Linked DNA regions of Homo sapiens: region 1 is linked to region 2. The links come from fine-mapping of genetic effects on gene expression. A gene starts in region 2. The other region holds a variant in brackets. All regions are shown on one strand. Distances are from middle to middle. Region 1 overlaps ACSBG1 (acyl-CoA synthetase bubblegum family member 1). Region 2 holds the start of IDH3A (isocitrate dehydrogenase (NAD(+)) 3 catalytic subunit alpha).

Region 1 (15,981 bases), 35 kb before region 2:
CTCTTGGTGGGCACTTGTATTCATTTGCCAAGGCTGCTGGAAAAGGGTGGCTTCTGGGGTTGGCTGGCCATTTTTGTGTTCCTTGGCTTGTAGACGCATCACCCAGGCCTCTGCCTTCATCCTCAGCTGGCGTTCTCACAGTGTCTTCACGTCGTCGTCCTTCTGTGTCTGTCTGTGTCCAAATTTCCCATTTCTATAAGGACACCAGGAATATTGGATCCAAGCCCACCCTAATGACTTTGTTTTAACTTCATTACCTCCATAAAGACCCTATTTCCACATAAGGTCACACTTGGAGGTACCAGCTATGAGGGCTTTGGCATATCTCTTTGCGGCGGGTTGTGGAGGGGGAGACAATTCAACCCATGGCAGCACCATATAAGTGCTTTTAAATCATTATGTCACCCCATAGGTGATACCATGTCCTTCATAATGCACCGCCTCAAGAGGCACATGATGGCAGGTGGTACTACTTTCAGTTATGTTGGGCTTCTTCATGACCACCTTCTCTTCTTCCACTGTGAAATTCCCCATCAACCTTTCTCCTGATGGTTTTAGCATCCCTTGATGATGTTTGCCTGAAATTAATTATTTTATTAGGTGTAGCAAAATGTTGAATTTCTAATTCATTGGCTGGAATTCTCCAAAGAAAGAACTTTCCCTCATTACCTGGGGCTCTTTGGTACCTGAGACACTCTGTTTGTACAGAGTAGGTGTGATAGAATAATGATCAATTTTGGTGAATGTTCCATGCATATTTGAAAGAATGTGTACTCTGCAGTTGTTGGCTAGAAGGTTCTATAAATGTTAATTAAATCAAGTTGGTTGGTAGTATTTTAATGTTGTCTTCTGTATCTCTATTGATTTTCTGTCTTCTTGCTCTATCAAATACTAAGAAAGGGAATGTGGAAATCTCCAATTATTATGGTAGACATCTATTTTTCCTTCCGGTTCTATTAGGTTTTGCTTTATGTATTTTGGAGCTCTGTTATTAGGCATATACGTGTTTAGATTATTATGTTTTCTTGATAAATTAACCCTTGATCATTAAGAAATGTTCCTCCTTATCCCTGGTAATAATTCTTGTTCCAAAAGTATTTTGCCTCAAATTAATATAGCCACTCCAGGTTTCTGATAATTAATGTTTGCATTATGTATTTTTGTGTTCTTTTAATTTTAACCTAGCTGTGTCTTTATATTTAAAGTGAGTTTCTTGTAGACAGCACATAGTTGAGTCTTGCCCTTTTATCCAATCTGATGAAATTTGTATAAATAGCCACCATTTGGCTATTTTTTTATTTGTCCCATCTATTCTTTGTTCCTTTTCTCCTCTTTCCTGACTTTTTTGTCTTTTTTATCTTGTTTTCTTTTGGTCTTCCATTTGATCTTCAGTGGCTTATTAGCTATCCTTTGTTACTATATCAGTGTTTGCTCTGATTTTACAATATGCATCTTTAACTTATCACAGTGTACTCTCCAAGATACCAGTTCCCATGAAATGTGGAACCATACAACAGTATACTTCCACTTCCCCTCCCATCCTTTCAGCTGTCGTCATCCATTTTACTTCTATAGAGGTTATAAACCCCACAAACATTGTTATTACTCTTGCTTTCAACAGTTGAGTATCTTTCTTTCTTTTTTCTTTTTTTTTTTTAAGACAGGGTCTCACTTTGTCACCCAGACTGGAGTGCAGTGGTGCAATCATGGCTCACTGCAGCCTCAACCTCCTGGGCTCAAGCAATCCTCCCACCTCAGCCTCCCAAGTAGCTGGGACTACAGGCATGTGAGGCTGCAGTGAGCCATGATTGCAACACTACACTCTGGCCTGGGTGACAGAGTTAGACCCTGTCTTAAAAAAACAAAAAGAAAGAAGGAAAGATACTCAACTGTTGAAATCAAGAGTAATAACAATGTTTGTGGGGTTTATAACCTCTATAGAAGTAAAATGGATGACAACAGCTGAATTTTTGTATTTTTTGTAGAGACAAGAGTCTTGCTATGTTGCCCAGGCTCATCTCAAATTCCTGGGCTCAAGCAATTTGCCCACCTCGGCTTCCCAAAGTACTAAGATTACAGGCGTGAGCCACTGCACCCAGTCCAGCTGAGTATCTTTCAGAGAAAATTTTAAAGAAGGAAATAATATGTTTCATATTTACCCACATTTTTGCCATTTCTGATACTCTGTCTTCCTTTATGTAGATCCAAGTTTTTATCTGATATCATCTTTTCAGCCTTAAGAACTTTTCTTTTTTTTTAAAGATTTGTATTAGTATTTTATTACAACTATTCTGTTTGTTCTTTTATATTCAACATCCCACATTTATGTATGAAATGTACAGACCAAAACTTATTATTGCCAATTACTTTTTTAAATTTATTTTTATTTATTTTATTTTATTATTATTATACTTTAAGTTTTAGGGTACATGTGCACAATGTGCAGGTTAGTTACATATGTATACATGTGCCATGCTGGTGTGCTGCACCCATTAACTCGTCATTTAGCATTAGGTCTATCTCCTAAAGCTATCCCTCCCCCCTCACCCCACCCCACAACAGTCCCCAGAGTGTGATGTTCCCCTTCCTGTGTCCATGTGTTCCCATTGTTCAGTTCCCACCTATGAGTGAGAGTATGTGGTGTTTGGTTTTTTTGTTCTTGCGATAGTTTACTGAGAATGATGATTTCCCATTTCACCCATGTCCCTACAAAGGACATGAACTCATCATTTTTTATGGCTGCATAGTATTCCATGGTGTATATGTGCCACATTTTCTTAATCCAGTCTATCATTGTTGGACATTTGGGTTGGTTCCAAGTCTTTGCTATTGTGAATAGTGCCGCAATAAACATACGTGTGCATGTGTCTTTATAGCAGTATGATTTATAGTCCTTTGGGTATATACCCAGTAATGGGATGGCTGGGTCAAATGGTATTTCTAGTTCTAGATCCCTGAGGAATCGGCACACTGACTTCCACAAGGGTTGAACTAGTTTACAGTCCCACCAACAGTGTAAAAGTGTTCCTATTTCTCCACGTCCTCTCCAGCACCTGCTGTTTCCTGACTTTTTAATGATTGCCATTCTAACTGGTGTGAGATGGTATCTCATTGTGGTTTTGATTTGCATTTCTCTGATGGCCAGTGATGGTGAGCATTTTTTCATGTGTTTTTTGGCTGCATAGATGTCTTCTTTTGAGAAGTGTCTGTTCATGTCCTTCGCCCACTTTTTGATGGGGTTGTTTGTTTTTTTCTTGTAAATTTGTTTGAGTTCATTGTAGATTCTGGATATTAGCCCTTTGTCAGATGAGTAGGTTGCGAAAATTTTCTCCCATTTTGTAGGTTGCCTGTTCACTCTGATGGTAGTTTCTTTTGCTGTGCAGAAGCTCTTTAATTAGATCCCATTTGTCAATTTTGGCTTTTGTTGCCATTGCTTTTGGTGTTTTAGACATGAAGTCCTTGCCCATGCCTATGTCCTGAATGGTAATGCCTAGGTTTTCTTCTAGGGTTTTTATGGTTTTAGGTCTAACGTTTAAGTCTTTAATCCATCTTGAATTAATTTTTGTATAAGGTGTAAGGAAGGGATCCAGTTTCAGCTTTCTACATATGGCTAGCCAGTTTTCCCAGCACCATTTATTAAATAGGGAATCCTTTCCCCATTGCTTGTTTTTCTCAGGTTTGTCAAAGATCAGATAGTTGTAGATATGCGGTGTTATTTCTGAGGGCTCTGTTCTGTTCCATTGATCTATATCTCTGTTTTGGTACCAGTACCATGCTGTTTTGGTTACTGTAGCCTTGTAGTGTAGTTTGAAGTCAGGTAGTGTGATGCCTCCAGCTTTGTTCTTTTGGCTTAGGATTGACTTGGCGATGCAGGCTCTTTTTTGGTTCCATATGAACTTTAAAGTAGTTTTTTCCAATTCTGTGAAGAAAGTCATTGGTAGCTTGATGGGATGGCATTGAATCTGTAAATTACCTTGGGCAGTATGGCCATTTTCATGATATTGATTCTTCCTACCCATGAGCATGGAATGTTCTTCCATTTGTTTGTATCCTCTTTTATTTCCTTGAGCAGTGGTTTGTACTTCTCCTTGAAGAGGTCCTTCACGTCCCTTGTAAGTTGAATTCCTAGGTATTTTATTCTCTTTGAAGCAATTGTGAATGGGAGTTCACGCATGATTTGACTCTCTGTTTGTCTGTTATTGGGGTATAAGAATGCTTGTGATTTTTGTACATTGATTTTGTATCCTGAGACTTTGCTGAAGTTGCTTATCAGCTTAAGGAGATTTTGGGCTGAGACAATGGGGTTTTCTAGATATACAATCATGTCATCTGCAAACAGGGACAATTTGACTTCCTCTTTCCCTAATTGAATACCCTTTATTTCCTTCTCCTGCCTAATTGCCCTGGCCAGAACTTCCAACACAATGTTGAATAGGAGTGGTGAGAGAGGGCATCCCTGTCTTGTGCCAGTTTTCAAAGGGAATGCTTCCAGTTTTTGCCCATTCAGCATGATATTGGCTGTGGGTTTGTCATAGATAGCTCTTATTATTTTGAGATACATCCCATCAATACCTAATTTATTGAGAGTTTTTATCATGAAGGGTTGTTGAATTTTGTCAAAGGCCTTTTCTGCATCTATTGAGATAATCATGTGGTTTTTGTCTTTGGTTCTGTTTATATGCTGGATTACATTTATTGATTTGCATATATTGAACCAGCCTTGCATTCCAGGGATGAAGCCCACTTGATCATGGTGGATAAGCTTTTTGATGTGCTGCTGGATTTGGTTTGCCAGTATTTTATTGAGGATTTTTGCATCAATGTTCATCAAGGATATTGGTCTAAAATTCTCTTTTTTGGTTGTGTCTCTGCCAGGCTTTGGTATCAGGATGATGCTGGCCTCATAAAATGAGTTAGGGAGGATTCCCTCTTTTTCTGTTGATTGGAATAGTTTCAGAAGGAATGGTATCAGCTCCTCCTTGTACCTCTGATAGAATTCGGCTGTGAATCCATCTGGTCCTGGACTCTTTTTGGTTGGTAAGCTATTGATTATTGCCACAATTTCAGAGCCTGTTATTGGTCTATTCAGAGAGTCAACTTCTTCCTGGTTTAGTCTTGGGAGGGTGTATGTGTCAAGGAAAGTATCCATTTCTTGTAGATTTTCTAGTTTATTTGAGTAGAGGTGTTTGTAGTATTCTCTGATGGTAGTTTGTATTTCTGTGGGATTGGTGGTGATATCCCCTTTATCATTTTTTATTGTGTCTATTTGATTCTTCTCTCTTTTCTTCTTTATTAGTCTTGCTAGCGGTCTATCAATTTTGTTGATCCTTTCAAAAAACCAGCTCCTGGATTCATTAATTTTTTGAAGGGTTTTTTGTGTCTCTATTTCATTCAGTTCTGCTTTGATTTTAGTTATTTCTTGCCTTCTGCTAGCTTTTGAATGTGTTTGCTCTTGCTTTTCTAGTTCTTTTAATTGTGATGTTAGGGTGTCAATTCTGGATCTTTCCTGCTTTCTCTTGTGGGCATTTAGTGCTATAAATTTCCCTCTACACACTGCTTTGAATGTGTCCCAGAGATTCTGGTATGTTGTGTCTTTGTTCTCGTTGGTTTCAAAGAACATCTTTATTTCTGCCTTTGTTTCGTTATGTACCCAGTAGTCATTCAGGAGCAGGTTGTTCAGTTTCCATGTAGTTGAGCAGTTTTGAGTGAGTTTCTTAATTCTGAGTTCTAGTTTGATTGCACTGTGGTCTGAGAGACAGTTTCTATAATTTCTGATCTTTTACATTTGCTGAGGAGAGCTTTACTTCCAACTACGTGGTCAGTTTTGGAATAGGTGTGGTGTGGTGCTGAAAAAAATGTATATTCTGTTGATTTGGGGTGGAGAGTTCTGTAGATGTCTATTAGGTCCGCTTGGTGCAGAGCTGAGTTCAATTCCTGGGTATCCTTGTTAACTTTCTGTCTCGTTGATCTAATGTTGACAATGGGGTGTTAAAGTCTCCCATTATTATTGTGTGGGAGTCTAAGCCTAGTCTCTGATAAAACAGACTTTAAACCAACAAAGATCAAAAGAGACAAAGAAGGCCATTACATAATGGTAAAGGGGTCAATTCAACAAGAAGAGCTAACTATCCTAAACATATATGCACCCAATACAGGAGCACCCAGATTCATAAAGCAAGTCCTGAGTGACCTACAAAGAGACTAAGAACTTTTCTTTAACATTTCTTATAATACAGGTCTGATGGCAATACATTCTTTCAGCTTGTCTTTGTCTGAAAAGGTGCTTGTTTTTCTGTTCATTTTTTAAAAGTCATTTTATCTGATTTAGATTTATGGGTTCACAGGGTGGGTTTTTTTTTCTTTCAGCACTTTAAATATTTCATTTCAATGTTTTCTATTTGCATCATTTCTAACAAGACGTCTACGATATCTTATTTTCGTTCCTCTCCACATAGTGTTTTGTTTTTCTGGCTGCTTTTAAGATTTTTTTCCTTTTTTGCTGATTTTCAGCAATTTGGTTATGTTGTATCCTAAGGTGGTTTTCTTTGTGTTTATTCTGCTTAGGAGTCATTCACCTTCTGAAATTGGTAGATTTATAGTTTTAATCCACCAATTTATATTTGAAAATTTCTCAGACTGTTTTTCAATTAAAAAAATTTTCTGGGACTCCAATTACATGTATATTTGATTTTTTGATATTGTCCCACAAGTAATTTTTTTCCATTTTTTTTTCTTTCTGAACTTTATTTTGAGGCTATGTTTAAGGCTTTTTAGGCCAGGCCTTTAGGTAGTCTTTACTCTAAGGCTAATTTAGCCTCATCACTAAGACATGACCCTTCTGGGCTCTGCTTAATGCCTGATGGGGTCCCTCCATGCTGGTGGGGGGAAACATGAGCAATTCCTACATCAGCTGCTGTTTGACTTCCAGCCCTGGTCATTGGTCTTCCTCCAGCTTCATGGAGTTTCACCCTATGCATGAGCAGATGGGGAGTCAATCAAAGACCCTAAAAGAATTTCTAGAACTCTTTCTCTATATAGTTCTCTCCTGTCTGCTGGTATTCTATCTCACAAATTCTAGCCGCCTCAGCTTTCCTGAGTTCTGATCTTGGTCACCTCAACTCAGTAAGACAACTGGGTTCTGTATTCCTCTCTCTCTCTCTCTCTCTCTCTCTCTCCCTCCCCTCCGCCCCTTTCTCTCCCTCTCTCTCCCTCTCTCTCCCTCTGTCTGTCTCTCCCATAGCTCAAAAATTGCCCCTGGGCAGAAAGCTGGGGCACACTTAGAGGCTCACCCCATCTGTTTCCCTCTCTCAGGGATATCAGTCCTGAGCTGTCTGTAGTCCAGTATCTGAAAACAATTGCTTTCTCTCCAAACAAGATGGCCAATGTGTACACCGTATGGGCACTGGGGCCCTGGGCGCCAGCTGGGGCCTGCTGGGCCCACCCAGCTATTCTATTTGTCCAGTTTCCTAGTATTTACAGTGCAACGATGGATGTTACTCCCTTGTGATCAGAATCAGAAGTCTCAGGAATATATATTTTAGCAAAAAATCAGGAGTTCACACTGATATTTCTGTTATTTCTATAACTTTTCAAATGTTATATTGTGAGGTTTTAGCTTACTTTATTTATTCTTGTATTTCTTTTATTTTACCTTAAAATCTTAGTTCCTTATAGGATTAACATAATCCTACAGTATATATCAAATAATTTTGAAATAGTATTATCA[G/A]TATTATTACCAACAATAAGGCCAGGTGCAGCAGCTCATTCGTATAATCCCAGCACTTTGGGAGGCCAAGGCAGAAGGATCTCTTGAGCCCAGGAGTTCAAGATCAGCCTGGGCAACATAGTGAGACCCCCCTGTCTCTACAAAAAAAAAAAGGAAAAATTTAATTAGCGACATGTGGTGGTGTGAACATGTAGTCCCAGCTACTCGGGAGGCTGAGGCAGGATCATGGGAGCCCAGGGGTTTGAGGCTGCAGTGGGCCATGATCATACCATAGAGCAAGAACCTGTCTCCAAAACAAAACAAACAAAACCAACAAAACAAAACCCCAGAAACCAATAAGACTATTGCATAGAATTTGAAATTCCTTTTTGCCTTTAGAGTGCCACTGAAAAAGAGGAATCAAAGTGTACTATTATAAAATTCCTTGATCTTGATGTAATTCTGTGTGTGTGTGGTTATGTTACTAACTTAGTATGTAGTCTAATTCATTTCTTTCTTTTTTTTTCTTCTGGTTCCTTGATCTTGGGCTAACTTATTTCTTTCAGAGTGTTTTCAAGTTTTAGGAACTCATTTTTTCCCTTTCTAAAAATTTTGTAGTGTTCCCCGCCCCACCCGCCCCGCCCCAAAGATACGGCCTCACTATATTGCCCAGGCTGGTCTCAAACTCCTGGCCTCAAGCAATCCTTCTGCCTCAGCCTCCCAAGTAGCTGGGATCACAGGCATGAGCCACCACACCTGACTTCCTTTTACATATAACTTTATTTTTCAAATGGTTAAGACATTTACATGATTCCAAAGTCAAAATCATGTGAGATAACACTCAAAGAATTTTTGCTTCCATCCCTTTCTTCTTCCCTTTATTCCCGCTCTTCCTATACACAGTGAATTCAATCAGGTTTTGGTTTAACCTTCGAGTTTCTTTTTGTTTGTTTGTTTTGAGACAGAGTCTCTCTCTGGAGTGCCGAGGAGCAATCTCGGCTCACTGCAACCTCTGCCTCCCGGGCTCAAGCGAGTCTCGTGCCTCAGTCTCCCGAGTAGCTGGGATTACAGGCATGCACCACCACACCCGGCTAATTTTTGTATTTTTAGTAGAAACAGGGTTTCACCATGTTGACCAGGCTGGTCTCGAACTCCTGACCTCAAATGACCCTCCCACCTTGGCCTCCCAAAGTGCTGGGATTACAGGCGTGAGCCACCACACCCGGCCTCTTTTTGTAAACATAAGTAAATACTTGTTTGCATACATATATTTACATTGCACCCCTTTCTTACACAAATATAGCATACTATGCGCATATTGTAAACTTCCTTTTTTCACTTAATAATATATCCTAGAAACCACTCACTCTCTGCACATAGAATTCTCTCCCTCTCTCCTCTGCCCTCTGCTCCTCTCCCTCTTTCTCCTACAGTCACATAGCACTACTCCATTGTGTGGCTGGATCATGGTTTGTTCAACCAAGCCCCAGCTTGTTTGGTGGTTTTCCTTCAATGGGGAGTCATCCCCAGTCCCCTGGCTATCCCCACCTTTACTGCTCCCAAGTTCTCAGGAGGGAAACTATGGGTGAAGGGTGGCAGTTGTCCTGCTGGGGTCGAAGGTCAGAGACGGGGCACCCAGAGACCTTTACTAAGCCGACTCACACAGGGAGATGGGGTACTTTTTAGAAGGTGACATTTCTCTTACTGAAACCTGATCTATTTTTCCTGTCAATGCAGATCTGGAAACAGTTGCCACATCTAAAGGCAGTCGTGATATATAAAGAACCTCCTCCAAACAAGATGGCCAATGTGTACACGGTATGGGCAGTGGGGCCCTGGGCGCCAGGTGGGGCCTATTGGGCCCACCCAGCTGACCTAGCCTGCCTGCTCCCTGCATCTGGCTACAGATGGAGGAATTCATGGAGCTGGGGAATGAAGTGCCTGAGGAAGCCCTGGACGCCATCATTGACACCCAGCAGCCCAACCAGTGCTGTGTGCTAGTCTACACTTCCGGCACCACTGGGAACCCCAAGGGCGTGATGCTGAGTCAAGACAATGTAGGACAGATGCCCGGTGGGGTGGGGGGGGTGCAAGGGGGTTATGGGTGGATCTGGGCCATGGCTCTGCCCCAGTAGCCCCTGGGAAAGCTCCTTGGGCCCCTCTGCTCTAGGAGCTGGGATAGGTAGAACAGCCCATCAATCTGTGGCCCAGACTGAGCTCAGCAAGGGGGAGGGGAGGCCTGTCCTGGGGTTTTCAGAGCCTGCAGAATCGCCACAGGGGGCACCACACTGGGGCTGGCCCCCAGGGTGGCCACAGTTGTGAGCACCGCCAGGGCTGGCTTGTGGACACTGCTGGGATCCATCTACTTGTCCTCCAGATCACGTGGACGGCACGGTACGGCAGCCAGGCCGGTGACATCCGGCCGGCAGAAGTCCAGCAGGAGGTGGTAGTCAGCTACCTGCCCCTCAGCCATATTGCCGCCCAGATCTACGACCTGTGGACAGGCATCCAGTGGGGGGCCCAGGTTTGCTTTGCCGAACCCGACGCCCTGAAGGTCAGTCTGCCTTTACCGTGTGTCCGTCTGAGCCCGTGTGCCAGGCCACGTCCACATGTGTCTGTGGGCCCTGAGTGCATTTGTGTGTGTGCTGTTCCTGTGCATGTATCAGTCAGAATTCTGTCAGCTGCAGTGGGCACAGCCTGACTCGAATGACCAAACAAGAAGGGAAACTAGGCCGGGCACGGTGGCTCACGCCTGTAATCCCAGCACTTTGGGAGGCCGAGGCAGGCACATCACGAGGTCAGGAGATCAAGACCATCCTGGCTAACACGGTGAAACCCCATCTCTACTGAAAATACAAAAAATTAGATGGGAGTGGTGGCAGGTGCCTGTAGTCCCAGCTACTAGGGAGGCTGAGGCAGGAGAATGGCGTGAACCCAGGAGGTGGAGCTTGCAGTGAGCCGAGATCACGCCACTGTACTCCAGCCTGGGCAACAGCATGGCCCAGTCTCAAAAAAAAAAAAAAAAAAAAAAAAGAAACCTGATGCCATTACATAAGGTCGAGTCAGAGTGGTTCGCGGGACTTGTGACACGATCAAGGACGGGCATCCTCAGAGTATCACCAGAAGGCTACAGCCCTTCCCTGAATCCCAGCTTCACAGGATATACCTGTTCTTTGGACCCTTATTTTAACTGTGAGGAAAACTTTCCCAGAAACCCCCCAGCAAGTTTCCCTCCACCAGCATCTCAGTGTCCCAAAGTGTCACCTGTCTGTTCTCAAACCATATGCTGCCGAGGGGAATGGGATTCTTGTGTCTAAGTTAGACTCATGGAGAGTTGCCATGCTCAGGGCTGGGATGAGACTGAGGTCAGCACTGGCTGCCTGACTGCTGCCTGCCACCAGGGTTCTGTGAGCAAAAAGCAAGGCGACAGCCATTGAGGAAACAGTATGTGCCACCCTTGCGTGCAGGTGTGTGTGGGTGCCCGTTGGAGCATGTGTGTGCCACCGGCATGCCTGGCTGGTAAGAGGGGACCCCTGGGCCCCAGATGCCCCTGACCCAACAGGCCTGCCTCTTCTGGTGTGAACAGGGGAGCCTGGTGAACACGCTGCGGGAGGTGGAGCCCACATCACACATGGGGGTGCCCCGGGTATGGGAGAAGATCATGGAGCGCATCCAGGAGGTGGCGGCTCAGTCTGGCTTCATCCGGCGAAAGATGCTGCTGTGGGCCATGTCGGTGACCTTGGAGCAGAACCTCACCTGCCCCGGCAGGTACAGAGGGCCCACGGGCGGGAGGCCTGGGGAGAGAGTGGGCTGGGTCATAACCCAAAACACAGTGAGGGTCTGATACGCCATGCCTGTCCCGGTTCCAGTGGCCGGGCAGCTCTGGAGACCCCGTGCAGAGGCCCCATCAATGACTGGGCTTGAGCTCCTGTGCGTTTCCCAGGGCCTGCTGGGGACAGTCGCTCCACCTTTGGATTCTGACTGGGAGGAGTAACTTGCTTTCTCTGAAGTGAAATTCACCTCCCTAGGAGCAGCTTCTGGCACAATCTCCTGAGGTCTCCTGACCTCAGTAAGTGGCTGGAGAAGGGGCCACAGTGATCAGGACTTAGCCTTTCCGGCCTTTTCAGCATCCCAAGTGACCCCTCAGATATTTTGCCCTTTCTATCTTTCTATAGCTTTCAAAATTCCCACATAGTTCTATGGAGGGTCAGTGACGTAAAGCTGGCTTGGTTTCAATTTAGAAGTAGTTTCCATTCCCCATGTGCCTGTGAAATGGTATGTTTCATGAGATGTGTGCACATATCTGTGCATCCACAGCTTCATTTGCACAGACACGAAACATGAACATGCACGAACAAAGCATTTGTGGGCTTCACTGGGGTCCCACGTTTGTACATGTGTATACATGAATACATACTTCAAGTTTCTGTGCATGTGTATTGTGTGTGCAAAATGGCATGTGTCTGTGTTGTTGCCCGTACACCTGTACACAGCTGAATCTGTTTGACTTCCTGGGTCAAGACATATTTGCACACAACCATGTGCCTGCATACCTACATCTGCATGCATGTTCACGGGCAGGTTCAATATTCAAACCAACCAACTGGAACAGACAACTGGAATGGCCGAGCCAGGGTGTTCTCACTGAATACCACCATACCACCCTTTTAATGTGTGTATGTGTGTGTGTGTGTGTGTGTGTGTGTGATTTCTTCTGTGAACCATTCTCCCTCTCCCACCAGCGACCTGAAGCCCTTCACAACCAGACTGGCAGATTACCTGGTGCTAGCCAAGGTTCGCCAGGCACTGGGATTTGCCAAGTGTCAAAAGAACTTCTATGGAGCGGCCCCCATGATGGCAGAGACACAGCACTTCTTCCTGGGTCTCAACATCCGCTTGTATGCGGGCTACGGCCTCAGTGAGACCTCAGGCCCCCACTTCATGTCCAGTCCCTACAACTACCGGCTGTACAGGTGAGGCTCGAGGCTGCCACACACATGCACACCCATGCGCCCTTGCTGGTACTTTGTGCCCGCCTGCTGAGTGCCCTGGGGATCCCCTTCTCTTTGCATGCCAGTTGGGTCCCAGAGACCTGGCCACTGGGCTATGGAGCCCCTGAGAGCCAACAATGCCATCTTGGGCCAAGTCCCTAGCTTATCCTCAGTCTAGTAGGAGTGGCCTCTGCCACCGTGTCGTGAGTCTGTGGTTGAAAACAGCCTGCATAGCCCAGGTGCCCCCTGAACCTATGGAGCAGTTTTCCTCTGGCCCCTCCCTCTTTTGGAGTGGGGTGTGCTCCAGTGTGTTCTAGGAGAGCAGATGGCCCAGGGGCCAGCTGGGGTAGGAGTTGGGGGGACCAGGCCAGCCTCCTAATGGACGGTGAGGGCGGTCAGTTCTGGGGAGTGATTTGCAGGATCATCTATTATGATTAAATATCTCCTCTCCCTGCCAGCCTATCACAGTGCTCCAAGTTCTACCATTACCATTTCATTTGTTCCTTCCTTCCTTCATTCCCTAAAACCCTTTACTTGGCTCTACCTTTCAGCTGTAAGTCCCCTGTAAAAATACAAAAGCCCTGTGAGGGGATACCTTCTAGCAATCAGTGAAGACCGAGCAGTTGGGACCCCGGCTCCCCAGTGGGGGCTTGGAGGAGACGGCTCCCTCTGACCAGTCTCCCGGCCCCTCCCTCGCCAGCTCAGGCAAGTTGGTGCCCGGCTGTCGGGTGAAGCTGGTGAACCAGGACGCAGAGGGCATTGGCGAGATCTGCCTGTGGGGCCGCACCATATTCATGGGCTACCTGAACATGGAGGACAAGACTTGTGAGGCCATCGACGAGGAAGGCTGGCTGCACACGGGTGATGCTGGCCGCCTGGACGCCGATGGCTTCCTCTACATCACTGGGCGCCTCAAAGGTGAGCACCCCAGGCCAGGCACGGTGGCTCATGCCTGTAATCCCAGCACTTTGGGAGGCCAAGGCGGGCAGATTGTCTGAGCTCAGGAGTTCAAGACCACCCTGGGCAGCACAGCGAAACCCCATCTCTACTAAAAACACACGAAAAATTAGCTGGGCGTGGTGGCATGCACCTGTAATCCCAGCTATTCGGGAGGCTGAGGCACGAGAATTACTTGAACCCGGGAGGCAGAGGTTGCAGTGAGCTGAGATTGCCTCTTTGCACACCAGCCTGGGAGACAGAGCTAGACTCTGTCTCCAAAAACAAAACCAAAACAAACAAACAAAAAAAGGCAAGCGCCCTGGACAGCTGCAGTGGGGTGGGAGCAGGAATTCCACTGCCAGCACTGTTTACACCAGCTGCTGGTCTTGAGCCTTTATTAAGATGGCACCTTTAGTGACATCGTTTTATTTACTCCACTCTCCTATGGGGCAGGTACTTATTAACCTTAACTTGCTAATGAGGACATCCAGAGAGGTTAAGTAACTTGCCTAAGGTCACCCAGCTAGTAAATGGCAGAGCTGGAAATCAGACCCCTAGAGAAACAAGGCAAGTCTTTCCAGAAGATTCAGGAGCGTAAGTATTATGTATTTTTATATGCAAACATGGATATGATGGGGAATAGAATGCAAATTGGATATAAAATTTAAAATAAGACAAACTTCCCACAGAGACAGAAATAGTTGGGGATGCCTCTGTGGAAGAATGTTCTGCCTGCTTCACCCAAGTTGGTGTCATGCCCGCAGCATCCACGTGGGAATCCTGCACCAGGGCTTCATGGGGGAAACTGAAGCTAAGTTGAGTGGGTAAACTACTTTGTGGACATCATGCAGGCAGTGTGCGACCATGCCCAGGACCCAACTGATGGCCATGGAGGCTCGGCCACCCCAGGGAGGGACAAAAGGTCGCGGTGGCGTTTGGGCCCTGGGATGTGCAGGCTGATGAGCCCTGGAGGTACCCTCCAGTGAGACCCCGGGAGCAACAGGTGACTGCTTGGATGTGCCATGGGCGCCGCCTAGTGTGCCTCTTTGTAATGGCCGATGAGGGGACCCACATCCCTGCATGGGGGAGGATAGTAGCCAGAAAACCAAATTCAACCAGAGCCGGCCCTCCTTTTAGAACTAGTATAGTGAGAGGTAAGGGTCCAAATAGCTTTTCTCCAAATACATATCCAACGGACACAGCATCCTTTCCCCATGGCCTTGCAGTGATACCTTTGTCCTTTATGAAGTGACTGTCTATGAGAGGTCTATGTGTGGACTCTATTCTGTTCCCTTGGTCTATTCGCCTATCCGTGCACCAATACCCAGTGTCTTAATTTCTATAGCTTTATGACAGGGATAGATATCCGGCTAAGTCCTACAGCCTTGGTCTTCTTCTTCTTCAAGATGACCTTGGCTATTCTTGGCCATTTTCATTTCCATATGAATTTTAGAATCATTATATGTTTCCTCAAAAACTGGGTGGAATTTTGATTTTGATTTCATTGAATCTATAGATCAATTTGGTGAGAAAAATACATGTTTATAGTATTGTCTCTTCCAATTCACAAATATGATAAATCTCTCCATTTACTTAGGTCTTTTTAAGTTTCTCTCAATAATGTGCTATTTATTTATTTACCTATTTATTTATTTATTTATTTTTGAAACAGGGTCTCGCTTTGTTGCCCAGGCTGGAGTGCACTGGCGTGATCTCGGATCACTGCAACTTCTACCTCCTGGGCTCAAGTGATCCTCCGGTCCAGCCTCAGCCTCTCAAGTAGCTGGGACCACAGGTGCAAGCCACCACAACTGGCTAATTTTTTATTTTTGTAGAGACAGGGTTTTGCCATGTTGCCCAGGCTGGTCTTGAGCTCCTGAGCTCAAGCCATCCTCCTGCCTCAGCTTCCTAAAGTGCTGGGATTATAGGTGTGAGCCACTGCATCCAGCCTATGTTTTCTAGTGTAGAGATTTTTGCACATCTTTCCTTATATTTACTTCTAAGAATTTTTTAAGGTATTTTAAATAATATCACTTAAAATTTTTTTTTCAGCTCAGATGTTGCCGCAAAATTTTTTTTCTCCTATTTGTTTGCTGCTGGTATATAGAAATACAACTGCTTTTTGCATATTGGCTTTGTATCAAATGACCTTTTGTGGATCATTTGATCAGACCACATATTCAATCCAGTAATGTGTATATTCTTTTGAATTTCCTATGGACACAACTATATCATCTGCAAATAGCAGATGAATTTTTTTCTTCCCATGTTGCACAGGTTAGGACCTCCAGGACAGTGTTGAATAGAAGTGGTGATAGTGGTCATCCTTGTTTTGTTCCTGATCTC
Region 2 (15,981 bases):
GACAAGCTGCAAAGAGACCAATTAATTCAAATCTTTTAAACCAAAGACAACAACAACAAAAAATTAACAATGTTCTCTCACTAAAATTTAGACGGTTTCTCATGAAGGCAAGTGTTTTCCTTTCCTTTCCATTGTGATCCTGGAAAGCTTCTCATGCAACTTCTTCAGTCTTGCAAAACATTTTCAGACACATTTCCAAAATATTACTGAGGTCTGTTTTGGTACTCAGGGAAAATCAGACTTTTTATCAAGAGAGCTTCCATTTTTTTCTTAGTTCCTCTATAAAACTGTCTGCTTAAATCTAAGAGTAATCTACATAAGCTTGGCAAAGTTGATCTGCAACCAAAAAGAATAGTATATGTCATCATACCTGCAAAGCCTGAGTCACACTTAGAATGACAATTATTGTTTTTATAATGTAACAGCAATGATTTATTCTAAGGCTTCAGGCAAAACGAAGCCAGCATTTCAAATGCAGAAATAAAAATATGTAAGGGAGAAGATCAGCACCTCTTTTTCCATTTGGGAACCACATATTTTATTATCTTGGGACTTTACCCCACCTAGGGGCTTGGCTTTTTTTCAGTTCTAGTTGCTTGAACTGCATTTTTAAAAAGTCACTAATTCAAGTTTCCTTGGTCCTTTGCCTTCCAATGATGTCTGCCCAGATACGTGGACTAATTATTTCTGATTAGTTTCTGTACAACTGAAGAAACATTTTTATTTTTTTCATTTTTCTAATTTTCAATTTTTATTTTTTAGAGATGAGGACTCACTACATTGCCAGGCAGGAGCACAGTGGCTACTCACAGGTGTGATCACAGCTCACTGCAGCCTCGAACTCCTGGCCTTAAGCAAATCTCCCACCTCAGTCTTAGCCAGGGCTAAGGCTCATACCAGTTTTCTCGGGTTGAAGAAGTCTTTAAAAAAATTAATACATCCTCTTATTTCTTCAAAAATAACCTCCTCCATCAAGCTAATTTTTTTTTCAAATAAATAGCCTGAAAATTAAATAATAGCAGAGAGCAATGATCATCTTATTAGCTTTCAGAATGCGTTTGAAATGCTAGCATGGCTATCCTTGAGCTTGAAGTGCAAGCCCCATCCTGCATTTTTGGCATAAGCAGAGCCAAAAGAACGCTTTGGCTACTTCTTCCTGTTCTCCCAACATGTAATAATAAATGTCATCCAGTCACCAGAAAATCTGCTTTTCTTCCACAATACAGAAAGTAAATGGAGGAAAAAATGTACTATGGTCTTATAAATCTTTCACGGCATAGATGTTATATGGGAGTATAGGAATTATGAAATCCAAATCAGATTCCATAAAAGGCGGGGCGGGGATCAAAACAAATAGGAAGTCACTGACCCACAGTCTTAGAATGTTCCAAAAATGTGGTATCAGCTTTTAAAGCACAGAATTCTGATGCTGGGAATTCTAAAAGCAGCAGATTTAATGAACAATAGATGATCTACTACTGTGATAGTCTACAAAGCCTATATAAGGCAAGTATAAGCCTACAAGGCTTATAGATGTTCGAGGCATTCCTAATTGGCACTCAATCTACTGGGTTTAGGGAAGCCCATAAAATAAAAATGCAAAGCAGGTTTTGAAGCTTCTCAACAATTTTCTCTCAACTTGTACTAGTTTTGAAAAAAGCTGTCTCACCAAAATGAGATTGTGAAATAAAATAACAGGCTCAAGGGTACTTTCTATTTTTAACAAGGCTCCCTCAAGATATTAATGTGACAAACTTACATAGCCAGCTGTAAGATAATTCTTTCAAATGCGCAAGTAACCTAACAGATTTGTGCATGTCAGCCAGTAATTTCAACATACATTATAAATATGGCCAATTTTCCCAAATTCTAAATGAATGGAGATAAAATGCTATATAATAAATATGTTAGAGCATCTTTCTTGAGAAACTTCTAAAAGGAAAAAATAAAAGACATAATTATACTCACACCACCAGTAAAACCTCTGGTCACCTGTTTTGGGTTGTGGAATGCCCCCAGCAGCCGAGAGACCTATATTAATATCAACAGAGAAATATCACACACAGAATTAAACCACATACAGTAAACAAGAGCGAGGAAGTCCTGATGGATGGTAATGCTGCAACTTGGCACAGATATATTCAGTAGCTTCCCAGGAATACAAATCTCATGTATTAGCTCAATGTGGCAAGCTATCTCAGATTTGAAAGCCTAAATACTCAGATTTTTACTTTAGATTGAGTACTGTATATTTTCAAAGTCAATTTAACGAATATAAGTTGTCAAATAAAAGATGTTGAAGGTAGAATAAAACTACTTTTTCAGCTCAACATACAGATTCTTCTCAGATGAGTGGATCATTTTGTGCCAACATTCTTGACCATTCGGTCAATTTAGGGGTAACATATATTCTAAGAAAATTACCATTAATTTTAGAGCCAGGATGTTCCTCATGAAATCCAGAGCACAACTCACTTATTTCTTGTTGTTGTTTTAGGCTTTTTGAGATGGGGTCTCCCTAGGTTGCCCAGGATGGAGTGCAGTGACTATTCAAAGGCACAATCATAACTCACTGCAGTCTCCAACTCCTGGGCTCAAGTGACCCTCTTGCCTCAGCCTCCTGAGTAGGTGGGATTACAGGTGTGCACCACGACACCTGGCAACTTGCTTATTTCATAAGCGGAGATGCTGGTCCCAAAGAAAAGCATTTGCCTAAGGTCACACAGCGAATAATTGGCAAAATGGAAACCCACATACAGGTCTTCTGACTCCTGGTCCAGTGCTCCTTCAATTATACATTATATCTATTCTGTGAATATTAAGAAATTACACTTTATAGTAAAATCTAAGAAAGTTTATTTAATACCATCTGATGCCCATGCCATACAGAATAAAGATTTTAAATAAATTACTGCTTCTTCTGATAATATAGGTAATGTGGTCATTACTGTCAGTTTGCTGGGACTAGGAAAAGATACAAAATATAAAATAAAAGTTACCCAGTAATCCCACCACACCAAGATATTACCACTGGTACGTGTTTTTTTTTTTTTTTCTCTCTCCAATTAACATCATATGCCAGAAATATAAATTTTAAAGGTTTATTATAAACTTTAATAACTTAGTCCTTGAGAACTGGTACAAAGTCATACTACATTATTATAAACAATATAAAAAAAGAAACTGGGTACATAGACCAAAGGTATTAAAATGCATTAAATTTTTTTTTTTTTGAGACAGAGTTTCACTCTTGTTGCCCAGGCTGGAGTGCAATGGTGCAATCTCGGCTCACTGCAACCACCACCTCCTGGGTTTGCCTCAGCCTCCTGAAAGTAGCTGGGATTACAGGGATGCACCACCATGCCCGGCTAATCTTGTTGTATTTTTAGTAGAGACAGGGTTTCTCCATGTTGGCCCGGCTGGTCTCAAACTCCTGACCTCAGGTGATCCACCTGCCTTGGACACCCAAAGTGCTGGGATTACAGGCATGAGCCACCACACCCGGCTGCATTAAATTTTTTAAAAAGTAACTTTTTCTCCTGCTAGATACATGAGCAAAGACACATTTGTTATATCCTATCTTGATGTTTTTTTCTGGGGTCTGAACCTTTGCTGAAATATTTATTGGTAACAACCAACAGCCAAGAAAGGTATGAATGAATTTTATTCTCTAATCTTCTGGTATCTATAGTCATGACTCTGCATTGAAAATAAGACTGGGCCAAATCCAAAAGAATGCCAAAACCATTGGCCAAAATGTTAATCCTAGGGCATGATTCATCCACCAGCGAGTGGGCTATTGGAAGGGAGGCCATTTAAAGGCTACTTTGTGACAAGAAAATTGACATGTGTCCTTTCTCCTCTCCCTGAACAAAAAAGAAGGAAAAGACATTCACACAAAACTCATGTCCTTGTGACAGAAGACCCAACCAACCAGGCTGTGCAACAAAGTGAGACCCTGTCTCTACAAAATTAGCCAGGTATGGTGGTGCACACCAATGGTCTCAGCTACATGGGAGGCTAAGTCGGCTTGAGCTCAGGACTGCTTGAGCCCAGGAGCTTGAGGCTTCTGTGAGCTATGATTATGCCACTGCACTCCAGCCTAGGTAATGGACAAAAAAAAGAAAAAAAGAAAGAAAGAATGAAAAAGACCCGACTCAAACAACTGATTTTAAAATGTAAACCCATCCTACCTGCATATGCTGGGGGCAGCAATGTAAACCCAGGAGTGTAAGGATTTGTGTTTTGTTCACTGTTGTATCTAGTGTCTAGAACAGTCCCTGGCTCATAGAAGGTATTCAATAATTTAAAAAAAAACAAAACAACAATCAAACAAAACTGAGTCCAGCCTCAGTCACATCTCTATCTGAAGAGTTTCCAAGCCAACAAGTAGCCTTAATACTTGCAATGATCTTCTTTAAGGACCAGTCTTTTCCATGTTTGTCATCTCTCTTGCATGATCTTAGAATAAAGCAGTACTGCACCTAAGTCATCACAATGACCCAGAACTTTAAGTAAAATAAAATTTTCCAAAGCACCATTTAAAGGTTACTTCGTGACAAGCAGAGCATAAAAGTGACATGAGGCCGGATGCGGTGGCTCACGCCTGTAATCCCAGCACTTTGGGAGGCTGAGGCAGGCAAATCACCTGAGGTCAGGAGTTCAAGACCAGCCTGACTAACATGGAGAAACCCTGTCTCTACTAAAAATACAAAATTAGCCAGGCGTGGTGGCACATGCCTGTAATCCCAGCTATTCAGGAGGCTGAGGGAGGAGAATCACTTGAACCCAGGAGGCAGAGGTTGCGGTGAGCCAAGATCGCGCCATTGCACTCTAGCCTGGGTGACAAGAGCAAAACTCCATCTCAAAAAAAAAAAAAAAAAAAAGGCCGGGCGCAGTGCCTCACGCTTGTAATCCCAGCACTTTGGGAGGCTGAGGCCGGTGGATCACCTGAGGTCAGGGTTCAAGACCAGCCTGGCCAACATGGTGAAACCCTGTCTCTAATAAAAATACAAAAATCAGCTGGGTGTGATGGTGGGTGCCTGTAATCCCAGCTACTTGGGAGGCTCAGGCAGGAGAATCGCTTGAACCCAGGAGGTGGAGGTTGCAGTGAGCCAAGATCTCACCATTCCACTCCAGCCTGGGCAACAGGAGCAAAACTCTGTCTCAAAAAAAAAAAAAAAAAAAAAAAAAATTGACATGAGTCCTTTCTCCTCTCCCAGCCCAAAAAAGAGGGAAAAGACATTCACACAAAACTAGCTTATGTCTCTGTGACAGAAGACCTGACCAATCAGCCTAGACAACAGAGTGAGACCCTACCTCTACAAAAAAAATTTTAAATGTTAGCCAGGTATGGTGGCACACACCAGTAGTCCCAGCTTCATGGAAGGCTGAGATGGCAGGACTTCTACTTTATAGAATACTCATATGCATATATATATATATATCTCACATCATTTTATTTATATAAAACCTGTAGAGATAGGCATTATTGGCACTTTTCAGATGAGGAAACTGAGGCCAGGTTCATGAAGCCTGGACCAAAACCCTGAACTTTGGACTTCAGGTCGTGGGCCATCTTAATCCACAACTCATTTCCTTTTTAACTTAAAAACATGTAAATAGTGTTGTACATGGGTTCTGAGATGGGTTTTAAAAAAAAAATCTTTTTTTTTTTTGAGACAGAGTCTTGCTGTTACCCAGGTAGGAGCATGATCTCCTCTCACCGCAGCCTCCACCTCCTGGGTTCAAGTGACTCTCCTGCCTCAGCCTCCCGAGTAGCTGGGATTACAGGCGTGCGCCACCACGCCCAGCAAATTTTTGTATTTTTAGTAGAGATGGGGTTTCGCCATGTTGGCCAGGCTGGTCTTGAACTCCCGACCTCAAGTGATCCGCCCACTTTGGCCTCCCAAAGTGCTAGAATTACAGGCATGAGCCACCATGCCTGGCCACAACCTGAAATGGAAACTCAACAGAGGAACTGTCCTGATTGAAACCGGCATCCAGCTCAGCACCTCCACCATCCTGGGGTCAGCCTCTGAGCCACCTTCTGCTCCAATCCCTAAAGTGAGAAGCTGGCCCAGAAGTCAAATGACTCTGCCAAAGGTCACACAGGGAGTGCATGTCAGAGAACCTCATCTTCTGACTCCACAACCCAACACTTTCTGAATACCTACTATGAGGGTTTTTTCATGCAGATCACACTAAAGGCAAAACAGATTTACCAGCACAATCATTATCAAGTGTTGCTTTAGTGCCTCACTGTGAAGGCAAATGTACCTACCAAAGATGAATTGGGTGTTAAATGTAAGTTCAGAGATTAAAGGACTGAGTTCAGTTTTCACAGTGACACAGAAGTTGCTTTACTTTTAGGAGCAAATGTGACATAAGAGTTATCATCACAAGCAAATCTGGGTCTGAAGAGGGTGACAAAGTAGAATCTAGTTATTGAACAAAAAAACCAGTTAATGATGCCCATGAAAACCACTGTCTGTTGGAGACAGATAAACATATTGATAAGAAAGCTTCAGATTTTTGTTTTCCTTCTGTACATACCAAGTGCTTTCACATACATTATTTTATTTAATACTCAAACAATTCTGTGATGTAAGTATAGATATTCACAGATGGGCATATTAAGGCTTAGAGATGTTTAGTAATTTGCTTAGGGTCACACAGCCAATCAGTGGCATTGCTAGGATTTAAATCTGAGACTCCTAAATTCCAGTACAGAGATCTTTTCCTTAAATAACAGTGCATCTCTGGACCTCTCTTTAAACCGAAAAAATGGGAGAAAAGTAGTATCAAACTTACAGAAAAACGTTAAATTGTTTATAGATTTCTAGGGGACCACCCTTTCATAGCAACAGGAGACTTGAGGCCTGATGGCCTGTACCATCATTTGCTATGTGACCTTGGGAAATGGGAACCAAGACACCTAGGTTCCTCTCCCTGCTCTGACACCGACCTCCTGTGTGACCTTGAGCAAATTCTTCTTCAGGCACAGGTTAGTTCCACTGAGAAGCTACGGAACTGCATAGATGATCTGAAACCCTTTCCAGCTCTGGCATCTGAGCTGTCAAGGAGAGCTAAAGCGCTCCAGATTGCAGGATTCCCACCAATGAAAGGTAAAAGGAAGGCTCTGCTGGTCTCTCTCTCCGAAGGTTCAGACGGTAATTCCGAGGTGTAAGATGCCCTATCCTATGAAGGGGAAATAGCTACAAGAGCACTAGAGGTCTGACTGGGAAGAGCGCCAAAGGGAAAACAATCTGATAGGGAAAAGGGCCCCCGGATTCTCTCACCTGGGAAAACCTCCCAAGCTCAACGCCAGTGCCCGTGGCACCTGCGGTTCCCCGGCCAAGGGCCGCGCAGACAGCGGATGAGAGGTGTGGGCAGTGCTGAGGGGATCAGTCCCGCAGCAGGGCCGCAGCCGGGGAAGCGGCCCGGATGGCGGAGCCGGGACAGAGGCTCCCGTGACCTTCCCGGGCTCGGCGCGAAGCCTGGGCTCTGGCCTGGGCGGATGCGGGTGACGGCAGCCGGGTCTCGGCAGGAGCAGGGCCGGCGCCCCCCCGCCTTGACCTTGACGCCGTCCCCGCCTCTGCGCTGCTGACCCGGCCCGGGGCGGCCCATACACTGCGAGCCGGCCACGGAGCGCGGGGCACGGGCGACCAGGACCGGCTCCCAAGCTGTCCCCGCGGGCAGCCACCGCCTCCCTGTCTGGCCCACGCGCCCGCCCACACCCGGCACGCGACCGGCTCTCCTGCCAGCCCTCGCGGCCTGCCTGCCTGCCACACGCCGGCCTGCCAGCGCTCACCTTAGAGATCCACGCGGGCCCAGCCATCGCTTCCCCTCCTGGCTCCGCAGCAACAGCCGCAGCGGCAGTGCGCAAGCGCCCACCCCACGCTCGGAGCCCGCCCCTGCACGGCCACGCCCCCTGAACGCCCCGCCCCCTAGACCGCCTCAGGATTGCTTCGCGCTCGCTCGCTGCCCCGCCCCTGGACATTCCGCTGGCGAATCGCCGGGCTCGTCTCTCTGTGACTGGCCTGGCTGAGCGCCAGGCGAACCCGGAAACTGAGGGGCCGGCATCTCCGGGAAAGCTTCTTCCTCCCCTCCCTGGTTCATTGACTCGCTGTTAAGGTAAGACGTTTGTTCCACACCTACTAGGTGCTGATTAATGTTCTAGGATCTTGGGGATATAGCGCTCCTCATAGAATTTACAATCCCGTGGAGAAAGACACATAATTTTCTTATTCCACAAATTTTGATTTTTTTTTTTTTTTTGAGACCGGGTCTCACTCTGTCGCCCAGGCTGGAGTGCAGTAGCGCGAACAGGTTCACTACAAAGCCTCGACCTCCTGGGATCAAGTAATTACTAAGCCCAGCCCAACTTTGTTTTTTCTTTTCTTTTTCTTTTTTTTTTTTTTTTTTTTTCTCCGTAGAGATGGGGCCTCGCTATGTTGCTCAGGCTGGTCTGGAACTCCAGAGTTCAAGCGATCTGCTTGCCCCAGGCTCACAAAGTGAGCCACTGCGACTGGCCGAATTTTATTTTTTACCAGCTTTATTGAGGTATAATGTATATATAGTAACATTTACTCACTGTAAGTGTACAGTTTGATGATTTTTAGTAAATGTAAACAGTTGCACAACCATCACCACAATCCAGTTTTTGAGCATATGAAAATGTTCCTTGTGTCCGTTTATAGTCAATCCCGCTCCTGTCCTCAATCCCAGGCAACTACTAATCTGTCTATTTAGCTCAACAAATATTTCTGAGGGTCAACTAGACACCAGGCACTGTTTTAAGTGCTGGGGCTTAGTGTCCAGTAGGAAAGACAGGCTTCAATCAAGTGTCACACACATGTCATTAAAACTGTTGCGCCAAGAAGCAAAAGAGCAAGGAGCTATGGCAAGGCAAAATCAGGCAACCTGATTCAAACCTAACCTGGAGGTCAGGGAATGCTTCTCTGAAGAAATAACATCCATACTCACCTTTCCCCTTGTCCTCTCCCTGTCCATCACAAACTCCTGAGTTCCTGCTGATGGCCAGGCCTCTAGCTGGGTGCCAGGGGAGGTCAGGTGTTTAAACCAGGTCTCTGCTACCCTACCCTGGGAAGAGTTCTATCCAGAGAGGAGCTGCCTACCCACCCAGAGAGGTGATGAGTGCAGTAGAGAAGTGATCCCAAGAGCTTTTATGACCTAAATAATAAACTGCAGCTAAGTCTGTGGCCTTGTCAGGAAGGAGGGCTTTTATCAACCCCTTTCCATTGGGCCCCTTCCCCTCATCAGGCCCTGGCAGTCCCATCCTGAAGTGTTCTCCCACAGTTCCTCCATCCCCAATGTCACCCCTGCCCTCCTTCGGGCCAGACCACCTCAGGCCCAGGCTCTTACAACAGCCTCTTCACCTGCCAACCTGCCCTCCCCTTCAGGCACAGCTCTGACCAGGGCTCGCCCCGGCTCTGAAACCTCCTGGCTCTCCCTTGCACTCTCCTCTCACACCACTGTCTTTTTTCAGCCTGATTTCCCACCACTCCTTCCAGCCCCAAAGACCTGGAGCGCCTGCCAACTAGGACTGCTGGCCAGCCCCCAAATGCTTCCCATATTTTACCTCTCCGTGCCTATGGTCGTGCCATTCCCTCAGCCTCAATGCCCTCTTGCCCCACTTCTACTGGCTGAAATTCTAGCTCCTTGTCAAGACTCAGCTTACATGTTGGGAAGTAGTAAAAGTTGTAAAAGCCCCCAAGACCCACGAATGTGTCCCCCTCTCCTTACTCAGAGCCCTCTAGCACTTGGCTCCCACCTCTCCTGGGAAACATCACATTCTCTTCTGCTGTGTGCCATTGAGAAGATAAGCTTTGGGCCAGGCGTGGTGACTCACGCCTGTAATCCCAACACTTTGGGTGGCCGACGCAGGTGGATCACTTGAAGTCAGGAGTTGGAGACCAGCCTGGCCAACATGGCAAAACCCTGTCTCTACTAAAAATACAAAAATTAGTTGGGCGTGTTGGCACATGCCTATAATCCCAGTGACTCAGGAGACTGAGGCATCAGAATCGCTTGAACCCACGAGGCAGAGGTTGCAGTGAGCCGAGATCATGCCACTGCACTCCAGTCTGGGTGACAGAGCGAGACTCTGTCTCAAAAGAGATAGAGAGAAGATATGCCTTAAGTCCAGAGATAATCTTGATGATCTCTTATGACGTTGTTTCTGGAACAGAGACTGGTACACAAGGAATACTTGCTGCTCAGTGATTGTGAAATAAACATTGACTGACTTTGTCCAGTCTTCATTTAATCTTCACAACAACCCTATGAGAAAACTGAAGTACAGCTAGTAAGTGATGATGCTGGCATTCACACTAGGAAGCTTCCTAAGTACTAAGGCAGTTCTCCTAACTGCTGAACTTTCGCTGAGGGCCAGTCCAATCCTACAAAGGCTTCCCAAGCCATTCTCTAGCAAGTGCACTGTGAGAACAAAAAATGAACAAGACCCACTCCTACCCTCCAGATCTAGTGAGGGAGAAACTCAGAAGTCTCAGATGGAAGTTGGGGGGTGATCAAGGAAGATTGCACAATGGAGATGGCATTTGAATCAGTCCTTGAAGAGGTAAAATGTCAGCAGCTGGAGGGACATGCAGGAAACAGAAATGACCTCACCTTGAGCTGAGATCTGTTCCCTGAGTCAGCCCTTGGCTCCAGAAGCCCCAGTCACCATTCCTCGAACATGTTCTAGAGTTCCTCCAAGATGCAGGTCACTCTCCTCTGGAAAAGCCCTTTTTCCTTGTCCCTTGCACTGTGTAGTGCCCAGAGATACCATCAGCAAAGTATGTTTGGACAAGACGGTGGGAAAACTTTGCCACTCAGGAGAAGAATCTAGAAAGTGCACCCTTATCTGTAATAACAAGCACTATCCAATCCAGGTGTGCTTCACTCTAAGGAAAAAAAAAAAGATTTTAAAATCAAGAGGCCAGGTGCGGTGGCTCACTCCTGTAATCGCAGCACTTTGGGAGGCAGAGGTGGGTGGATCGCCTGAGGTCAGGAGTTTGAGACCAGCCTGGCCAATATGGTGAAACCCCATCTCTCCTAAAAGTAACAAAAATTAGCCAGGGGTGGTGGTGTGCATCTGTAGTCCCAGCTACTCAGGACGCTGAGGCAGGAGAATCACTTGAACCTGGGAGGCGGAGATTGCAGTGATCCAAGATCGCACCACTGCACTCCAACCTGGGTGACAGAGCGAGACTCTGTGTCAAATAAATAAATAATAAAATCAAGATAGCAATTTTTAAGTGAATAAATCAGCAAAACAGAATATACATTATTCACATACCAAATGTTTATTTTTTGTTACAAAAGAAATTCATTTCAACAGTTTTCCTACTTTATTTAAAATATTATTTTCATTAAAGATATGATTGGCAAAGGGTTCATCCCTATCTCTAAGTTAGGAAAAGATCCAACAAATTGGTAAAGAAGGTATTAGGACTTTAGTAAATAAATGGGAAAAGGGGACTGGGCGCGGTGGCTCACGCCTGTAATCCCAGCACTTTGGGAGGCAGAGGTGGGTGGATCACGAGGTCCGGAGTTCAAGACCAGCCTGGCCAAGATGGTGAAAGCCTGTCTCTACTAAAAATACAAAAAATTAGCTGGGCGTGGTGGCGGGTACCTGTAATCCCAGCTACAAAGGAGGCTGAGGCAGAGAACTGCTTGAACCTGGGAGGCCGAGGTTGCAGTGAGCCGAGATCGTGCCACTGCACTCCAGCCTGGGCGACAGAGTAAGACTCTGTCTCAAACAAAACAAAACAAAAAACATAGGCCGGGCATGGTGGCTCATTCCTGTAATCCCAGCACTTTTGGAGGCCGAGGCGGGCAGATCACAAGGTCAGGAGGTCAAGACCAGCCTGGTTAACATAGTAAAACCCCCTCTCTACTAAAAATACAAAACTTAGGGAGGCATGGTGGTGCACACCTGTAGTCCCAGCTACTGGGGAGGCTGAGGCAGGAGAATCACTTGAACCTGGGAGGTGGAAGTTGCAGTGAGGCGAGATCACACCACTGCACTCCAGCCTGGGTGACTGAGTAAGACTCCGTCTCGGGAAAAAAAAAAACAAAACAAAACGGGAAAAGGACCTGAATAATCAATTCACAGCCAAATAAACTTTTAAATAAATGTTCAATCTTAACAATAGTCAAATGCATGCAAATTTCTAAAAAAAATTATTTTTATTTAAAAATATTAATAAAATGCAATGCCTTATACCATCCAATTTATGGCGCACTGCTTGGCTGGCCTTATACATTTCCACAATCTCTTTGGAAAACAGTTTAGCAATGTGTCTTAAGAGAGACATTAACTGTTCTTACTCTTTCACCTAGTAAATCCATTCCTGAGAATTAAACTCTTGGGGAAAAAAATCCAGAAAGAAAAAGCCATCAACACAAAGATATTCATTATACAATTATCCTTAATTTTGAAAACTAAAAAGAGAAAAAAGCAGTCTAAATGATTAACAGAAGAAATGGTTATGTAATTTAGGGGAAATGAATGAAGTGGACCATCATGCAGCCTTCAAAAGTGATCAATGGCCTGGCATGGTGGTTCACATCTGCAATCCCAGCACTTTGGGAGGCCGAGGTGATCACTTGAGGCCAGGAGTTGAAGACCAGCCTGGGCAACATAGCAAGACATAGTCTCTACAAAATATAAAAATTTAGCCAGGCATGGTGGCATGTACCTGTAGTCCCAGCCACTTGGGAGGCTGAGGTGGAAGGCTCACTTGAGCCCAGGAGTTAGAGGCTACAGTGAGCCATGATTGCACCACTGCACTCCAGCCTGGATGACAGAGGAAGACCTTATCTCTAAAAATAAAATTAAAAAATAATTTTTTTTTTTGAGATGGAGTCTGGCTCTGTCGCCCAGGCTGGAGTGCAGTGGCGCTGTCTTGGCTCACTGCAAGCTCCGCCTCCTGGGTTCACGCCATTCTCCTGCGTTCATGCCATTCTCCTGCCTCAGCCTCCCAAGTAGCTGGAACTACAGGCGCCCGCCACCATGCTCAGCTAATTTTTTGTATTTTTAGTAGAGACAGGGTTTCACCATGTTAGCCAGGGTGGTCTTGATCTCCTGACCTCGTGATCCGCCTGCCTCGGCCTCCCAAGTGCTGGGATTACAGGCATGAGCGACCGCGCCTGGCCAAAAAAAACATTTTTAAAGTGAGTATTATGAAGACTTTAGCATCTTGATAAATGTTTATGGTTGAATGTTCAGAAAAAAATAAAAATTTAAACTATTATCTATGTTCTCTTATAACTTCTTTTTATATGTGAACAAAGAGTAGAAGGAAACCTGCTCCCTCCCACAGAATTCCCCCACCCAATAAAATTCAACTCCAGCCTTCTAGTTGCTGAGGCCAAAAGCCTGAAGATGAGCTGTTTTCAAAATAGGTTCAGTTTTGGACACTTTTCCCCTTGGCAGCTGCTGCCACCAGGGTCCAAGTCAGAGTTACCTCTTGCCTGAACCAACACAGTGGCCCCCAAACTGGCTTCCCTACTTCTACCCCTTAAAATCCATCTCCTGCCAGAGGGATTGTGTTCAAACATAAGACAGATACATCCTTCTCTGCCCAAAGCTGCCAGCGACATCCTGTCTCTCTCCAAGTAAAAGGCAATGCCCTGGCAGTGCCCCATAAAGCCCTAAAGGGTCTAGTCCTGCTAGCCCCTCTCTGAGCTTCTCCCCCACCACTGTCTCCCTTGAAGCCGACCTACCTCCTTGCTGTTCTTTAATCGGCCATGCTTCCTCCCACTGCAGGGCCTTTGCACTTACTGCTCCCAATGCCTGGAATGCTTTTCCATATGGCTTGTTCCATCAGCCACTCCCCATCTCCCCTCTCCCAGACCCTGGCAACCACCAATCTCTTTTACATCCCAATGTATTCACCTACTCTGGGCATTTCATATAAACGGAGTCATAAAATATCTGGTCTCTTGTGTCTGGCTTCTTTCATTTAGCATGATGTTTTCAAGACTTATCCATATCATAGCATGCATCAGTCCTTCATTCCTCATGACGGTCAAGTTATATTCCATCACATGAATAGACCACATTTTATTCATACGTTCGTCAGTTGATGGCCATTTGAGTTGTTTTCGCTATTATGAATGATGCTGCTATGAACATAGGTTTTCTTTCTGATTTTCTTTATTGTTCTTGAAAGGTTACTTGTCAATAAAAATTGTGTTCCTAAAAAGTCCCTATACCTCAACTTTCTAGCAGCACATGTATTGCCTAAAATGCGCAACACCTCTACTGCCTGCCCCGTCATATGTCATTAAAGCCCAGAATTGCACCCTTCCCTAGAGGAGTGAAAAGATGTCTGAGATGAGTCTTCAATCAGGAGATTTTTCCCTTTGTCACGCCTCCCTGTTAATAAACAGGAGGCATGGCAGAGCCTAGCGGGAAGGAGCTGGGCCCTGGGGAAACTTGCTCCCAAATGTTCCACTGCAGTGACTTCAGGCCAAAAAAAGTTGCTCTGAATACATGTGTTTCCACAGATGGGTTTTACTGCGTGGTCCCTCCAGCTATCATTGCCGAGCCACCTACTATGTCAGGATGGGGCAGGAAGTCAGAGGGGCTAGAGATGAAGGATTTCTATCCCCTACCTTGGAGGAGCTCCTAGCCTCTGAGGGCCTGGGCAGGTACACAGATCACCACAGGAGGAGGGAGACACCTCATGGGCAGCTCTCACTGGTCTATTCATCCTGCATGGAGAGACTCAGCAATGATTACTGACTAAAGAGATGAACTGTTACTACGACTTTGCACTTTCCACTCTTCTGTGGCCTTGAGAGAAATCAAGGCCCACACAGCCCTGGGCCTCAGGCCTCTCCACCTAGAAATTCCAGGGCTCTCCAAACTTTCACAATGAAAACTGAACTCATTACTCTCCCCAAAACCTGCCCTCTCTCCTGTGTTCCCATCTCAGCAGAGGGCCTCATCACATACCTAGGTGGTTACCAAACCAGAGTATCAGCCTCAATTCCTTCATCACTCATTCAGAAAAGATTCTTTGTGCATCTGTGATATTCCAGGCCCTATGCTAGGCACAAAGAAGAATGGAGTAACCCAGGGGAGGCGAAGTCCCTGCCTCCTGAACCTTAGAGTGGTTCTCAATGCTGCCAGATGCTCCCTTTTTATAACAAATATTTTGAATATCCTCTTTACCATACTGAAACGAAATTCATGGATAATCTAAACCACTTATACACATAATGAAAAAACAAAATCAATATAATGCTGCTACTGTAATATGAAAGAGAAATAAAAGGAATACTGTAATAAAATAATGGGTTTCAATACATAAATGCTCAGGCCTAAACTCTAAAAGACATTATGAAGCAGTCACATGCTTGCACCTACTTATAACAAGTAAGTTTGGATTTGAGAGAGGTATGATAATATTCAGGCCACAGTTTTTATCTTTGACATTTAAAAATAAGAGCTAAAAAAGTAGATGTTAATAGACCATGAATCACAGTGATGGTGACGTTCACAAATGCAGATGAATACAGGTGTGTTGTATGGGGTCAAGCAAAATTCTTTTTCTTTCTTTTTTTTGAGACAGGGTCAAGCAATCCTCCTACTTCAGCCTCCCAAGTAGCTGGGAATGCAGTCATGAGCCACCACTCCCAGCTAACTTTTTAATTTTTTGTAGAGATAGGGTCTTGCTATGTTGCTCAGGCTAGTCTGGAACTCCTGGGCTCAAGCAATCCTCCCGCCTCAGCCTCCTAAAGTGTTGGGATTACAGGCATGAGCTGCTGCACCAGGCCACATCAAGCAAAATTCTTAGTTGCCACAGGCATCTGGGTTAATTTCTTCTTTCTCAATCACAAGTCACGTTGCCATCTCCGATGTTACCTCCAAAATGGTGATCGAGTCTTGTTAAAGTTTTGAACAAAGTAAATTTTAGTCTTCCCTTGATTTGCATTCCTGGA

What was found. PIP is the estimated chance that this variant, and not a neighbour inherited with it, causes the effect.
Region 1: its variant is fine-mapped to the expression of IDH3A in whole blood (TOPMed, PIP above 0.99).

What each region holds. Positions count from the first base shown.
Region 1 is chr15:78,176,247-78,192,227 of GRCh38, reverse strand. It overlaps ACSBG1 (acyl-CoA synthetase bubblegum family member 1), which reads left to right. Exons shown (of 14, transcript NM_015162.5): 6 at 9,443-9,523; 7 at 9,613-9,762; 8 at 10,083-10,259; 9 at 11,292-11,473; 10 at 12,448-12,678; 11 at 13,397-13,614. Among named protein-coding and RNA genes, the nearest start is that of IDH3A, 35 kb to the right of the region's middle. The variant G/A (reference allele first, on the strand shown) is at 7,727.
Region 2 is chr15:78,141,263-78,157,243 of GRCh38, reverse strand. It overlaps IDH3A (isocitrate dehydrogenase (NAD(+)) 3 catalytic subunit alpha), which reads right to left and starts at 7,882. Exons shown (of 11, transcript NM_005530.3): 1 at 7,814-7,882; 2 at 1,969-2,031. The coding sequence starts at 7,840. It overlaps LOC124903534 (a long non-coding RNA gene), which reads left to right and starts at 8,025. Exons shown (of 2, transcript XR_007064725.1): 1 at 8,025-8,136; 2 at 9,512-13,965. RefSeq lists a silencer at 7,343-7,922.